Homo sapiens: one gene and its partners. The protein of the gene in region 2 purifies or fractionates together with the protein of the main gene of each other region. This does not show direct contact. Each region holds a gene or a part of one and is shown on either strand. Other genes may lie near its edges.

The links. The genes of interacting proteins can lie anywhere in the genome.
Region 1: the proteins of C1orf198 (region 2) and B3GALT2 purify together in Homo sapiens (co-immunoprecipitation; one large-scale study listed by IntAct). This does not show direct contact.
Region 3: the proteins of C1orf198 (region 2) and XXYLT1 purify together in Homo sapiens (co-immunoprecipitation; one large-scale study listed by IntAct). This does not show direct contact.
Region 4: the proteins of C1orf198 (region 2) and DHCR24 purify together in Homo sapiens (co-immunoprecipitation; one large-scale study listed by IntAct). This does not show direct contact.

What each region holds. Positions count from the first base shown.
Region 1 is NC_000001.11:193,180,922-193,183,613, forward strand, and holds part of B3GALT2 (beta-1,3-galactosyltransferase 2), read right to left. Parts: intron 762-2,692; 5' UTR 642-761; coding exon 1-641. UniProt on the Homo sapiens protein: Beta-1,3-galactosyltransferase that transfers galactose from UDP-galactose to substrates with a terminal beta-N-acetylglucosamine (beta-GlcNAc) residue. Can also utilize substrates with a terminal galactose residue, albeit with lower efficiency.
Region 2 is NC_000001.11:230,836,630-230,842,038, reverse strand, and holds the end of C1orf198 (uncharacterized protein C1orf198), read left to right. Parts: intron 1-2,130; coding exon 2,131-2,187; 3' UTR 2,188-4,920; downstream 4,921-5,409.
Region 3 is NC_000003.12:195,264,660-195,268,159, forward strand, and holds part of XXYLT1 (xyloside xylosyltransferase 1), read right to left. Parts: intron 1-3,500. UniProt on the Homo sapiens protein: Alpha-1,3-xylosyltransferase, which elongates the O-linked xylose-glucose disaccharide attached to EGF-like repeats in the extracellular domain of target proteins by catalyzing the addition of the second xylose.
Region 4 is NC_000001.11:54,863,196-54,866,695, forward strand, and holds part of DHCR24 (delta(24)-sterol reductase precursor), read right to left. Parts: intron 2,252-3,500; coding exon 2,108-2,251; intron 1-2,107. UniProt on the Homo sapiens protein: Catalyzes the reduction of the delta-24 double bond of sterol intermediates during cholesterol biosynthesis.

The sequences.
Region 1 (2,692 bases), about 38 Mb from region 2:
TCATGATATTGTCTGCTTTCTTCCAGTATTGCACGTTGAAGGTAGCCATTTAGCTTAATACTTAAGCCCAACAAAAATATTCTTGTGATTTGAATACCAGGTGCTAGACTTTCATTGCCCCAAGTTTGCCGAATAGCTCTTCTAGCTTCTATTTGTCCAGGCTCTGCAGCTATTAGTAGTATTAAAAAAGGACTTTTCTCTTGGCATTTTTCAGGCTCATTAATAATATATTTGAAATGGTAAGAATTTGGATGTCCAGTACCTTTTTCATTGTAAATACTTCCATTGGCACTAAGTGTATTCTCCAGGCCTGTAACTCCTTGTGGTGACAGGTCTGTGTTATTAGAGTTAGTTGCTGTTTGAGGCCTCAGGGTTTGAGGGACTGTTTCTTTCCAAATGTTCCGAAGGGAGCTGTGGTTTGTCTCACTTTTTGTTGACCGAAATCCTCGGAAAGTGTATGTCACAGGGTTTTCTTTGAATCCAGCTCTGCCTGGCAGCCAGTCATGATGATTGAAAAACAAAAACATAGCAAAAAGAAACACTAGAGAAAGTACTCCAATAAGATGAGTGCGGAACAGAGACCTTTTGGCATTCCAGGTCATCTTTGCAAAGCAGCAGTGTCTTCTCCTCCACTGAAGCATGTTGTAAATATCCAGTAGTGGTATATGAGAGATTGGTGACCAAAAATGTTTTCTTCTCCTTAATACTATTCTTTGGCAATCATTTTCTAATTCAGTCACATTGTCTCTCTTGTAGTCATTCTATAAAAATGAAGCACAAAAGTTTACAGAACTGCCTGAAAGGGACTTTGGGTACTAATATGATCAGGGCAAATAGGAATGTCTTAAGCTGTGAAAATATAACCCAGGAACGAAGCTTGTAATTTATTTCCCCTTGGCAACATAACATCACTGAGAACAAGATTAATTTATTTAAAAATATACCTTTGTAGCACAGTGAGCATTTTAAAGAGATGAGGTGATGGATTCATTTCATTGTCTTGTTACACTGGTCATTTGTACTTTTGACCCAAGTTAAAGATTTAAAAGTTGAATGTATTCGAGAAAAATGTTACTAGATTTCTGAGAAGGGTTGTGTAAAAACGCCTTAAGAGCAGATGGAAAATTTATTGGCATTAATTAAAATTGATTTGACATACTATTGGTGGTATGGTGCACAGTCAGAGGCCTTTTTTGTAAAATGGTCATGTATCAGTTGTGGGACAGACGGTGCAAGGTTGATTATGGCAGAGTTCTGTTAGTCACAGTACACTGCTTGGCATGTTTCCATTGGCCCCTACTGTGTTGAGAAAGTCAATGAGAAGATGCACCTGTCAAAATTAATTTTCAGGGTCTAGTAACTTCAGTGTAGGATTTTTAGACAGTAATAAATGATTAACACTTTCAAAAATTTTAACTTTTCTTTGTAAATATGAAGTATTCATGATATAATTGTTCTTAGACTTAAGATTAATTTTAAAATACAGCATGTAAGTGTCTTTGATTATCTATGGCTTTGGCAGAACACTGTTACATATCTTGGTTGAGTCTCCATGTTAGAATTAAAAGAGCTACTTTGAAACCAACTGTTTAAAATTCTGAATTTCACACAATATATTTTTAAATATCCTTGAGTTGTGCTTTATTCTAAATTTACATGCAGATAATTTGTTAAACTTTTAGAACTTGTCATTAGCACAGTTAGAGCCCTATATTTTAAAAAGGTTATGAGATGGCAATATGTGAGGTTCATGATGGCATATATTAAGAACTGGTTATGTTATCTTGCAACAAGGTTTTCAGTGCATAGCACAGATTTGTTCACATTTGTTCTTAGTGTTTTTGTTGTTGTTTTTAGTTTTTGGGGACCAATATGTCGAGGGAGTAGAGGTGGGCAAAGAGGTATAGTTTGAATTCCATTAAAACAGGAGAAAACTTTTTGACAAGGAGTGATGAATATGTAATTTTAATTTTTCCAACTTTTTATTATGAAAATTACTTCTTTAAGCAAAAGAAATCAATTAAAAAGTTTTAATACAGGAGCATTTATTTGAAATTACAGTGTATGCATAAATACATGTATGTATTTAGCCTGTGATAATGAGAGAGTCATGGTTAATATTAAATTTGTTTAACCTTGGCATAAATTTAATTACTTCTAGGAAATAGAATTTACATGGAAATCCTCATGTAATTGAATAGTTATAAAGTAAAATTCACATACATAACGTTAAGTACTTTGAAAATATTGATTGAAAGTGTTAGATGTAAATGAATGAAAGTGCTATTATAGTAGCAGCCACTAGGAGGAGCAAGTAGGTGGGAATTTGAACAAATATCTAAGGTCCAACCATATAGGCACCAGCGTTTGAAATTTCTAGTTTCTGAGATTACAGAGTACTTTTAGAAGTTATAATATTTCTAAAATGTAAAAAAATTAAGCATTTTGAAAGATGTGAACAATTTTTTTAAGTTTGGAATTTTAAAAGCAAATCATCTAGTATGCTATTTGTTAGAATTTGTTTATATGAATTTAAACTCAGCATTAGTGTAATGAAAACCAAGGCTATTCACTGTACCAACAAAACATAGTTCTGCTGTAAGCTAAGCTGAAAATAATAGAGCTGAGCATTCTGATTTAGAAACTCAGTGTTTTCCTTCTTGTACTTTTAAATAGCTGGCCATTCTTTTTA
Region 2 (5,409 bases):
TACCCTTTTGTGACTGACTTACTTTACTTAATGTGACGTCTTCAAGGCTCATTCATGTTGTAGCAAGTGTAGAATTGCCTTCTAAGGCTAATATTCCATCGTGTGGTTAGACCACATTTTGTGTATCCACTCATCCATCGACAGACACTTGGGTTGCTTCCACCTTCTGGCTATTGTTGTCTGTTAGGAATAGTGCTGCTGTGAACGTGTATGTACAAATAAGTCTTCCAGCCCCTGCTTTCCCTTCTCCTGGGTGCATACCCAGATGTAGAATTGCTGGATCACATGGTGGTTCTATTTCTACTTTTTTGAAGAACCTGCATACTGTTCGCCACAGCAGCTGCGTCATTTTACATTCCCATCAATGTGGGTTCGCGTTTCTCCACTCCCTTGCAACACTTGTTATTTTCTGTGTCTTTGCTGGTGCCATGCGAAGGGGTATGAGGTGGTGTCTCACCGTGGTTTAGACTTGCCTGTCCATGATCGTGAATGATGTTGAGCCTCATTTCATGTGCTTATTGGCCATCTGTGTATCTTCTTTGGAGAAATGTCCAATGGTCCCTTGCCCATTTTTAAATTTTTGGTTATTTTGTTGTTGAGTTGAGATCATCACTGATAACATTGAATGTCCCCCAGAGCAGGTTTCCAGTACTTCCACACCTCCCTCGGCAGATGGCTGCACGTGCTGTCCTCCCGAGGAGGGAGGATCCAGCGGTGCTAGTACCTTCTGCCCACCTCGGCTCCACATCAGTGCTCTAGCCTGTCCTCTTCGTGTTTCTGCACCTTCTTAAGCTAGTGCTTTCAGCCCTCTTGTTTCCTGCCTTCTCCGGTACCTGCCCATCTCTCCGTTCTGTTTTCTGTCTCACATCCTCCTGCCCATCAGCTCCTCCTTACAGACAGGCTCAGTTCCCTGCCTCCCTAACCAGCACTCTTTCTCTGAGACTCGGCACTGAGGGCTTCCTCTGAAAGAAGTATTTCCATAAAATAGGTGATAGTCCCCACTCTAAAGAGAAGCAGGAACGTGTTTCTGTGTGGGCAGTGGAGAGTAGGAGACAGCACATGAAATTCCTTTGAGAGAACAGATTTCTGAGTAAAGCACAGTGAAATGCCACTGCATTTAAGAAACTGGAAGGAAACCAGAACAAGGAAAACTGGATTGCACTCCTTCCATTCTGCATGTTTTGCCTCACTCTGCACCAGTCTCACATGTAGCCAAACTGGGCCTGAGACAGGTGTCAAGGGCAAGCCCATTAGCCCATTGCCTGCTCTTGCCGCCATGTATGCATTTTCTGCTGGCCGGCTGCTTGGAGGGTGGAGAGTCAAGGTTTCTTTGCTCAAGAAGACCTTGGCGCACCAGGTAAATGCCTGCCGGTGTTAGGCTGGAGGAAAGGGACATCAGAAACAGGCTGCTGAGTGGAAGCCAGTCAGAAGTTTTATGAAAACAGCAGCAGCTTGAGACAGCCCATGCTCACAAGAGGGGACCTGTCAGTTAAGCCCTTTCCCCTGAAAGAAGAATGACATTAAACCAGGCCTTGTGGTGCACGCCTGGTGCATGCCTGTAGTCCCAGCTACGTGGGAGGCCGAGGCAAGAGGATCGCTTGAGCCCCGGAGGCTGAGCTTAGAGTTTGGGAAAATCACTTCATAACCTTTCACAAGATCTGAAAGAAATAAGCTTCACATTCTTTCCACACTATGTTTACTTTCTCAACTTTACAAGTTCTTTTTTGTTGTGTTTGTGTGTGATGTTTGTTTTATATTTGAAGGAATATCTTTATCATTTGTTCTCTTATTTAGGATGAATAAATTTAAACATGGCTGTCATTCAGAAACAGAAAAGATTTATAGAAAAATACAGAGACATTGTTCTTTTCTCTGTAAGGTCTGTAAGCTGCTCACAGACATGCCTGGGGTTGAAGAGGGGTTAGTGTTGGATGCTGGCAGAGTATAGATTGCATTGAACTGTATTTAATCTTCTGATTTCAAGCACTGAGATAAATTGAGGTCAGGGAACCTCTGAGACAGAAGTAGGCTCTTTTATCTGGGTCGTTTTAAATGAGATGCTGTTTTTAGATTATACGTAACTGAAAAAAAGAGGCTCGTCTTACTTCCATGTTTTTGTCCCTTCTACAGGTCAGCTCAAGTAATGTCGTCTTGAAGACGGGATTTGATTTTCTGGACAATTGGTAAAATGTATTAGAAAAATACAATGAAGAACCCTAAAATGTTTTCCAAAGTGGTGTGGTGGAGGAGGATAAAAAGGGCCACCTTTTCCTATGTATTTTACTGGTTTCTTGACACTCTTTTCTTAATCATTTGGAAACTGGTCAATATTGCCAGATTTTTTTCTTTTTTGGTAGAACCAGATATATATGCTATTTTCAGTGATTTGATAACAGAAGTTTTCCATTTGGAATTTTTAAGGTCTGTTAATAATTCAGGAGATCTTGTAAATAAAACTTCTGTTCCCAGCTCCACCCAACTTTCCCCCTCCTCAAAGGATGTGTTTCAACCATGTCACAAAAATCATATAAGTGATTTCCATCTCCTTCTCCATTATTCCCCCTCCCCCCTCCGCTTTTTACCGTATGGGTTCCTTTTGGTGGGTGATTGAGGGTGATGTTATCAGCCATGACATCAGCATGCTGGCTGTGACCCCGGAAAGACTGGCCCCCAGCGACGTTCTCAGCCAGCGCTCGCAGCTGTCCGGGGCTTCTCTGGCAGAAGCCATGTCTCTCACATCATGTGCCAGCCTCCACCCTCACGCCATTTCCAGGGAACAGACTGCGGGTATGTAGCAGTGTAGTCTTTAACCTGCTCTGATACATATTCAGAGTATGGATTGTTGTTTAAAAAGAGTTGCATGTTTAAAGAGTTTTGTACTAGCTTTTCATTATTTTGTATCTAGATTATCAACAATGGGGCTACCACTTTCCTTGGTTTTATATCCATTTCCTCTTGGAAGTTCTTGTTGCTTATGTGACCTGTTGGTTGTTCCCCGGACTGGGCACCTACAGGAGTCAGGGCAGACGGCAGATGTGGCTGGAGGTCAGGGCTCTTCTGCTTAGTTGTGTTAGAGTCTTCCAGCATGGGACTGATGGGAGCAGTGGGCATTCTTTATCCCAAGGGCTAGCCAGGTTGCGTCATGACGGACCTTCCCCAGCCCTGACCACCACCAGAAGTGGAAGAGTGGAGTTTGCGGTCAACTCAGCAGTGCCCATGGAGACCTGCGTGGTGTCAGAGCAGCAGTATCTCTTGGAGCTGGTGCAGACACCAAGGCTGCCCAGTGGTACAACGTGGTCCACCTCCCCTAGGGAAGCTGCTGCACTCAGAGGCTGTCCTGCCCAGTGGCCCCTGAGCCGTGTGAGCCTGCAGGAGGCGTCTGAGCAGAGCCTCAAGCCCGGTATGGCGCCATCTCCATGTTGCCATCACTGCGTTCTCACCTGAAGCCTTAATCTTTGCGACACCTGCCAGTGAGCGCTCGGTTTCAATACCAAAGTGTGTCTTCTTCTTTTTTTTTTTTTTTTAAATGCCTGTTTCATAGGACCTTCTGAAATGATTTCCAGAATATTTTATCTGGCTCCAAAATAAAGCACATAGCAACTCACCTCAACCCCTCATCATCTCCAGGAAAGTTTCTGCCAAAGCTGTGGCATAGCCAACTTTTGATTTGGTTCTTGCCAATTGTTTTATGTCCCTAAACCTCATTTGGATCCTTGGGGTATAGTTTTATCTTTCTGCTTCAGTGATTTACTGTAACTTTTCAAATATTGGTTCTTTCTGTACCATTTAAGTATAGTTGATATATGTGAGGCAAAAAAAGGTTTCAGCATGGTGGTGAGGGAAAAAGGAGCTTAGAAATCCCAGTTGGCACAGCCTGGGCAAGCGCCAGCTCCCCTCAGGGCTAACGGCACTGTTCACACAGGGATCCTCAGAATCAGCGGCCACCTGCCTCCACCTTCTGCCTGGAGGGCATGGGGCTGTTGTAGAACCTATGGTAGCAAATGTATATGTATGAGTTTGTATTCTGTAGTGTTGGTGTAGCACAGAAGAAAGACCTGTGTCCTAGAGAGTAGGCCAAGGTGATCTGCCTCTTCTATTGGGAGAAATTCTAATTTCTTTCCCACTTTCTCAACAAGCCCAATATTCCCTCCAAGTTCTTCTTGGTGCTGAGGGCTGTAGGAATTATTGAAAGCTTCTGCCTCACTTAGTATCGTCTGGGGCCCAGCACCCAGCAATAACTCTAATAATGTTTCTTAATGGTATAGCCTCCTGAGATTAAATGTAAAATCAAAAATTAGGAAATCTTGGAGGGAGTCCTCAAGTTGTATTGCTTTGCTGTGCTTTTGGAAGAAGGGACGACCTGGAGGACACAGGCTCCTGTGTGGGTCTTCATCCTGCCTGACCGGCAGATCTTCCTCTACACCTTGGGCAAAGTCTATGCGAAGATGGTTTCTTAGCTCTCCATTTGCCATGATTTTCCTCCCATTCATCATGAGGGAGTTTCTCAAACCAGGAGTTTATATTTATTTTTTAGAAAATACACACTTTTCAGGAGAAACCTGAGCATGATTTTGGATTCTCCACCTCCCCCCAGTCTCTGCACCTGGGATTCAGCTCAAGGATTCAGTGTCTTCATTTTTACAAAAGTTCCCCCAAGAAATCAGCAACCAGCCTCTGTTTCATCTGGGAGCCCCTCCCTTGGCCCCCTGGGTTTGGGGGTGCTGCCCTACTGGGAACAGCGGGGGTCTGTCACCCGTCTGAGCCGCACCCCCCTGTGTGGATTTCAGGAAGAGCCTCCCTTTCTTTGCGTCTCCCTTTCTTTAATTAACATTTTCAAAAGTAATAAATTCTTACTGACGACTTGTAACTTAGTCATATTTTATACTTGTAGCCTTTAATAAAGCCATTTAAAAAATGCTATTTGTGTCTGTGATGGGCCTCTGCTGGTGTCAGGAAGCCTATGGAGATGATTGCAGTTGAACACAAAAGAGAAAAAGGGGTTTGTGCTAGTGAAAGCTAGCTTAAGCCACTTCCGGAAGCCTGCTTTGCAGTCTTGGTGCGGTCCTCTCTGCAGGTTTGTGGGAGGTGATGGCTGCTAGCAGGAGGGGTGGGCTCTGTCTTGGGGGATACTTGCACAGCCCTCGGGTGAAATGGAAGCATTGGCAAGCCTTTCCAGACAAGCTTATTGTATTGAGTGACTGGCTCTGAAAAGCTGCCTTCCTGAAAGCTTTCGTGTTGCATCTAGTCAAAGCTGATTTTTTATGGGAGGATGGGGAATAGAAATACAAAATAAAACATGGCCGGTCAGTCCTATTCCATTCATTAAAGTGTAGGTGGTAAATTACCAACTATAGATTAAGGAGATGTTAATTTTTCATATCAAATAAGCTTTTAAGACTGAAAATGGTG
Region 3 (3,500 bases), on a different chromosome or scaffold from region 2:
AACTTGTTCTGTTCCCTGCTGTTCACAAGTACCTAGAACAGTGTCTGGCACAGGATATGCACTTAACAACACCCTATGAATGAATACATGAAAAAATGAATACATGCTATAAAAGACATGCACAGCCGGGCGTGTTGGCTCACAACTGCAGTCCAACATTTTGGGAAGCTAGGGCAGGAGGATCACTAGTTTGAGACCAGCCTGGGAAAGAAGGTGAGATCCCATCTCTACAAAACAGTTAAAAAAAATTAGCTGTGCATGGAGGCACATGCCTGTAGTTCTAGCTACTGAGGAGGCTAAGGCAGGAGGATCCCCTAAGCCCAGGAGTTTGAAGCTACAGTGAGCTGTGATCACACCACTGTGCTCTACTCTAGCCTGCGCGGCAGACAGAAACCCTATCTCAAAAAAAAAAAAAGAGTAAAAGAAAAGGCCAGGCACGGTGGCTCACATTTGTAATGCCAGCACTTTGGGAGGCCAAGGCAGGTGGATCACCTGAGGTCAGGAGTTCATGACCAGCCTGGCCAACATAGTGAAACGCCATCTCTGCTAAAAATACAAAAATTATGTGGGCGTAGTGGCAGGCACCTGTAATCCCAGCTACTTGGGAGGCTGAGGCAGGAGAATCGCTTGAAAGGAGGCAGAGGCTGCAGTGAGCCAAGATCGCACCCTTGCACTCCAGCCTGGGTGACAGAACGAGACTCCATCTCAAAAAAAAAAAAAAGAAAAAAATGCACAAGGTGATGGGAAAGATGAAGGCTGGCATGAGGCTTGCGTTAGACAAGAGATTCGGGGAAGGTCTTTCTGAACAGTTAAGATTTGAGCTGATAGCACAAGGCAAATACCACAAAGAAGCAATATTGCTGTGCTCCATGGAGGCCATACAAGCAGTGGCTGGTGGGCCCCACCGCCTCTGCAGAGAGCTGGCCAGCATGGGGAAGGAGAGGAGACATGAGAGGCGCCTTGAGGCCTGTTCACTGTGATCATTTTCCCAGAAGTCAGTAGAGTAGAACCATGTGATGAGACTGGACCCGAAACAATACACACAGCAGCACTGGGCTAAACTGGAGTAAATGCGACCCAGCAACACAGATGTGATGGCCCCAGCCCCGGCAGCCATCCTGGACCACGAAGACAGCGCCACCCTCAGGGATGGTGAAACACAGAGCTGGAAGGAGCCGAGGACCGTGGTGGCTTCACGAAGCCCCCATGCCAGCCCAGAAATGCCTACCTCTGGACTGCATTGAAACGAGACATAAATTCAACCTTGTTTAAGCCACCATTATTTGGGGGTTTCATGGTATATTCTGTCAAACCTGATCTGGCAGGAAAGGCACATGGAAGGGATAAGTCTTGATCTAAGTTTTACAAGTGTGAGACTGCACTTGACAGAAAGACAACAGATGCTCAGAAGCAGAGCAAGCAAAGCGCCATGAGAAGAATTCAGGAAGCTCAGCCACTGCTGTGGGTCTAGGACATTGAAATGACCTGGGAGGACAGGTAGCCAGAAGCCACTGGAGGTTCTGAATGGAAGCGATACAATAAAGGCAGCATTCTGGCCGGGTGCGGTGGCTCACGCCTGTAATCCCAGCACTTTGGGAGGCTGAGGCAGGTGGATCACGAGGTCAAGAGATCGAGACCATCCTGGCCCACATGGTGAAACCCCATCGCTACTAAAAAATACAAAAACTAGCTGGGTGTGGCGGTGGGTGCCTGTAGTCCAGCTACTCCGGAAGCTGAGACAGGAGAATCGCTTGAACCCGGGAGGCAGAGGTTGCAGTGAGCCGAGACCGCACCACAGCACCCCAGCCTGGTGACAGAGCAAGACTCTATCACAAAAAAAAAATAAAAGAAAAAGACAAAAAAAAGGCAGCATTTTAGCAAGGTGAATGTGGCAGCCTTTCCCAGATCAGCACAGCCAAAATAGCCTGGATGGAAGAGTCACAGTCAAACAGTTCCTGAACGCCCACTGTGAGCCAGGCATCATGCTCCCCACGGAAGGTTACCCAGAGGACAGGATGCCTGAACTGGGTCTTAGAGACCAGCAGGAGAGCACTCCTGGATTTCTTACAGCAGTGACGCCCAAGCCTGCCTCTGTAACTCCATCCAAATACAGACTTCCAGGCCCCACCCAGGAGATTCTGAGCCCACAGGCTGGGGTGGGGCCCAGGATTCTGTATTTTCAAGTGTCCCCAGGTGATTCTGATGCATTTAGAAAATGGACTTACTGTATAGGCTAGAAGCAGCTCCTCCTATACTGGTACCTGGAACATAGCAAGCTCTGAAGTTTACTGATTAACAAATAATATGCTTCCCTGTTCACAGATAATAAACTAACAGATTAATTAAAACCTTCAAACATATTTAAAACAAGATACATGAATCCTTTTTAGCTAATATCCAATTAGCCAAAATAAAATCTAAGGTCACTAATAATGTTCTGTGATCTATTTCTGCAACCATTTCAGCTACAAGGTGTTTCTATGCCACTTGAAAATGGCCTGAGACCTCGGTGTGTGGGCACCAGCCCCGTGCCAGTTCACTGTGGCCCTGCTCTGCATCTTGCAGCCATGCTGAGGTCCCAGAGCCAACTGAAGGGAAGAGGAGCCCCCAGGCTATCTTCAGACAGTTCTAACACCACTCAAATCAATTCTCCCTGGGAATAAACTGCCCCCTGGACTTTACAAGACAGAAGTGCTCCTTAAAGGGGAAATACAGCACAAAGGGAACAGCACTGACCTAGGATGCAGGTCCAGCCACAACTGAGTAACTTCTCCAGAAAGCCTTGGGCGAGTTTCCTCACCTGTCATGCTATATACTCCAAATCCCTTCCAGCTCTGGCACAGCCAGAGTGAGAAATTCTAGTTTCCTTCTTCCGAGTCAATACTGAAAAAACAATTCCAGTATAAAATTCCCTCATCTGTCAGGTGCTAGGGAGGCAGCATTTAAGACACGTCAATGTCAGTGCCCTTAAGGAGTTTAGAGTCTAGCAAGGAAGACAAATAATTACTCCAACGATTATATAAATACAACTGTGATAAATGTTACTAAGGAACAGTGCTTGGAGTTTGAAAGTGTGTAATGGGGGCTCAGGAAAGGTTTACCAAGGAAAGAACACCAAAGCCGAGACCTGAAAGCTGAGTACCAAGGATGGAGGCAGGGAGAACTCCAGACAGAGGAAAGGCATGTGACATATGTTCTTTTCAGGAATATTCCAAACCTGAGGAAGAATTAAATCACAAGTAAAATGAAGCAAACCTTTTAGAATCGCACATTTAAAGGAAAAAAAGAGCACTTTTCATCACAAACAGAAAAATTTACAAAATATGAACTCAAAAATCATGGGAATGCCAGGTGCAGTGGTGTGTGCCTGTAATCCCAGCTATGCAGGAGGCTAAGGCAAGAGAATTGCTTGAGCTCAGGAGTTCAAGACCAGCCTGGGCAACATAGCAAGAATTCTTATCAAAAACAAAACAAAACAAAGTAACGGAGGCCAGGCGCGG
Region 4 (3,500 bases), about 180 Mb from region 2:
ATTTGACACTTCTCCTCTGCTGCTGCCCAGACAACAGTATCTTCTTTCTTCTACTCTTCCACTCTTGTCCACTCCCGTCCCCATCCACTCTATCCAGCTGTCACAGTTATTCTTTTAAAACAAAAATCAGGCCATGCCACTTTCCTGTTCAAAGCCCTCATTGGCTTCCTATTATACTTAGAATAAAATATAAAGTCCTTCCTAACCTACAAGGAGCCATATGATCTAGCCTCTGGTGCCTGTTTGACCTCATTCCTCACCATAGCTCAGCGTGGGCATGCTGGCTCCGAAGGCTTCTTGCTGTTTTTCAAACACATGCAGCCTTGCTGGGACACCTGGATAGCTATAAGCAAAAGAATGGAGCCTGGACTCCTACCCCACTCAACAACCTAAAGATTAGAGCTGCAACTATAAAGGTCTTTGAAGAAAACAAAGGGGCTTGGACTTGACAATAAATTCTTATATATGGCACTAAAAGCACAAACAAAAGGGAAAATAGATAAATTGGAATTCATCTAAATTAAAAACTTCTGTGCATCAAAGGACGTTACCAAGACAATGAAAAGAAACCTACAGAATTGGAGAAAATGTTTGCAGATCATATATCTGATGAGGGTCTAGTATCCAGAATACACAAAGAACTCTTACATCTCAACAACAAAGACAAATGACCAAATTTTAAAAGGTGGCAAAGGATTCAAATAGACTTTTCACCAAAGAAGATATACAAAACGGTTAACATGCATATAAAAAGATGCTCAGCATCATTAATTTCAAGGAAAATGCAAGTCAATACCATAAACCCACCAGAATGGCTATAATAATAATACTAATAATTTAAAAACCAGAAAATAACAAGTGTTGGTGAGAATGTTGAAAAAATAGAGCGCTCATACATTGCTGGTGGGAATGAAAAATGGCACAGCCTCAGTGGAAAAGAGTTTGGTTGTTGCTCAGAAAGTTAGACACAGAATTAGCATATGACCCAGCAATTCCACTCCTAGTTCTATATCCCAAAGAACTGAAAACAAGTATTCAAACAAATACATGCACATGAAGGTTTGTAGCAGCACTGTTCACAGTAGCCAAAAGGTTGAAACAACCCACATGTCCATCAACAGATGAGTGACAAAACAAAATGTGGTCTCTCATATAATGAACTACTATCCCGCCATAAAAAGAAATGAAATATTGATACATGAAAACATTATGCTATGTAAAAGAAGCCAGTCACAAAAGGCACATACTGAATGATTCCATATATGTGAAATATCCAGAATAAGTAAATCTGCAGAGACAGAAGATGAATTGGTGGTTGCCACAGGCTGGGGAAAGGGGAGAGAATAGGGAGTGGCTGCTTAATGGGTATAGGGTTTCCTTTTCAGAGATGAAAATGTTTGGAACTACACAGAGGTAGTGGTTGCACAACACTGTGAATGTACTAAACTACCCTGAACTGTCCATTTTATAATGTTTAATTTCCTGTTAGCCCAGCTCAAGCCCTGGGCTCTGGCTGTCCCTCTGCCTGTGAACAGAGTTCCAGAGTCCTCCCCAGAGTTGTTCCTGGTCTGCCTTCCCTATGTTCAGGTCCCTGCTCACAAAGTCATCTCCTGAGGGGTTCTTCCTGACCTTCCCCCACTTAAAGTGTCACTGCTCCTCATCCACCCACCCATCTACACATGCAACAGCAAATTCTCACTCACCTTTCACAGCCAGGCTTGGCTGTTACCTCGAGCCCTAGGCAGAACTAGCCACTTCCTACTAATGTTCCTGCGGCCCTTTACAGTGCAGGGATCTGTCTGCTCACCGTGGCTAGAGGCTAACCCTTCCTCAAGGGCGGAACAGGTCTGTGTTCCCCAAAGTACCGGCCCAGGGGCTTACTCCCCAGCACCAAGCAGATGCTTGCTAAGAGCCTGCTGCTTGAACTGAAGGTAGTTGGTTCCTTCAGAAGGAAACGACTGTGTTGCTGCTTAAGAAGGCATTGCAGTTCCTTAGGACAAAGCCACTCTTTACCCTGAAGGGAGAGAGTATGGCTACAGTGTTAACTGTCCGGGCTCCCTGCCCAGCTGGCCTGGAGGAGCCAGGGCTACAGAAACCTAAGCCTCACCTGGAGCTCCCAGAAGATGCTGCGCGTGTGGCGGTGGTAGTAGTGTCTCAAGGGAATGTACTCCAGGCCCTCTCGGTTTGTCTTCAGATAGTTCTCCACATGCTTAAAGAACCACGGCTTGTAGTAATTGCCAATGCTATTCAGCTGAAATGACAGAGGGCATTGTGATCAGCCTGCAGACAAGCGCCCAGCACCATCGGGGTGTAACAGCGACACCCGGCTTCTGTTCAGCACTCCTGGCCTTTTCAAAGCTCTTTCATGTCTATTACTGCCTTTGAGACTCTTGAAAGCTGGTGAGGTTAGGCACAGCGGGTATCCTCTAGCAGAGAGAGCAGGAGCTCAAAGAGGTTAAGTGGTGTGTGCCCAGGGCCAAACAGTGAGTCCCCGACAGTCTAGAGAACTCAGCGACCCCGCCTAGCCTGGTGCAAGTGTTTAACAGAGTTAAACATTTAACTGCCCTGATGCAGTGCCCCATGCAGGGGAATTCCCTCCCTCCCTCCCTTCCCACCTTCCCCAAGGCCAGGGAAGCACGAACTCTGGGAATGGGTCAGCCCCTCAGTGCAACCCAGGGCTCATGGCACCAACTGGTCATGGCACTTTCCCTGCTGTCCCTGGACCAAGCTCCACAGTCCTCCGGGTACAGCACTCCCCAGGCAGCCACCATCGTCTGGAGGATGCTCACATGAATAAGGCTCATACCTCCCTGGCCCTGGGGGCTCCCACACCCAAATCTTCTATTGAGCTGATGTCTCCTGCAGCCCTAAATGGTCATGACTCAATGTGCTGTGTGCCTTGGGATGGCTGAGCTTCTCCTGGCCTCAGCTTCCTCATCCATAAATGAATTCTGGCAGATGCTCTCGGGGAGAGGCAGGGGGGATCCTGGAAAAGCACAAGCTTTAGGGTGGGCAGCTGGGGACACACCCAGGCAGGTCATCTCTGAGCCTGTTTCTTCACATGTAACATGACAATAAAAATACATACTTTGTGGGAGTTATTTGTCTATTAGAAATTACATACATATGCCCACTGTTTTTAAAAAATAGGACCATCTTTTTTTTTTTTTTGAGACAGAGTCTCGCTCTGTCGCCCAGGCTGGAGTTCAGTGGCACGATCTTGGCTCACTGCAAGCTCCACCTCCCTGGTTCACGCCATTCTCCTGCCTCAGCCTCCTGAAAAATGGGACCATCTTACACGTACTGTTTGCCAATTTGCTTTTTCCATTTACAACACACTTAGCAGAGCCTAGGCAGGTTACTTAGCATTTCTGGAAGACTAAAAGAGATGATGTAGAAAGTGCCAAGCACGGTGCCTGGTCCACAGGTGGCTGAAGTATCAGTCCCCACCCATTCCCTTGTTGACCTGCTCTACCCTACAGCCAGGCAACCCTTTGCCG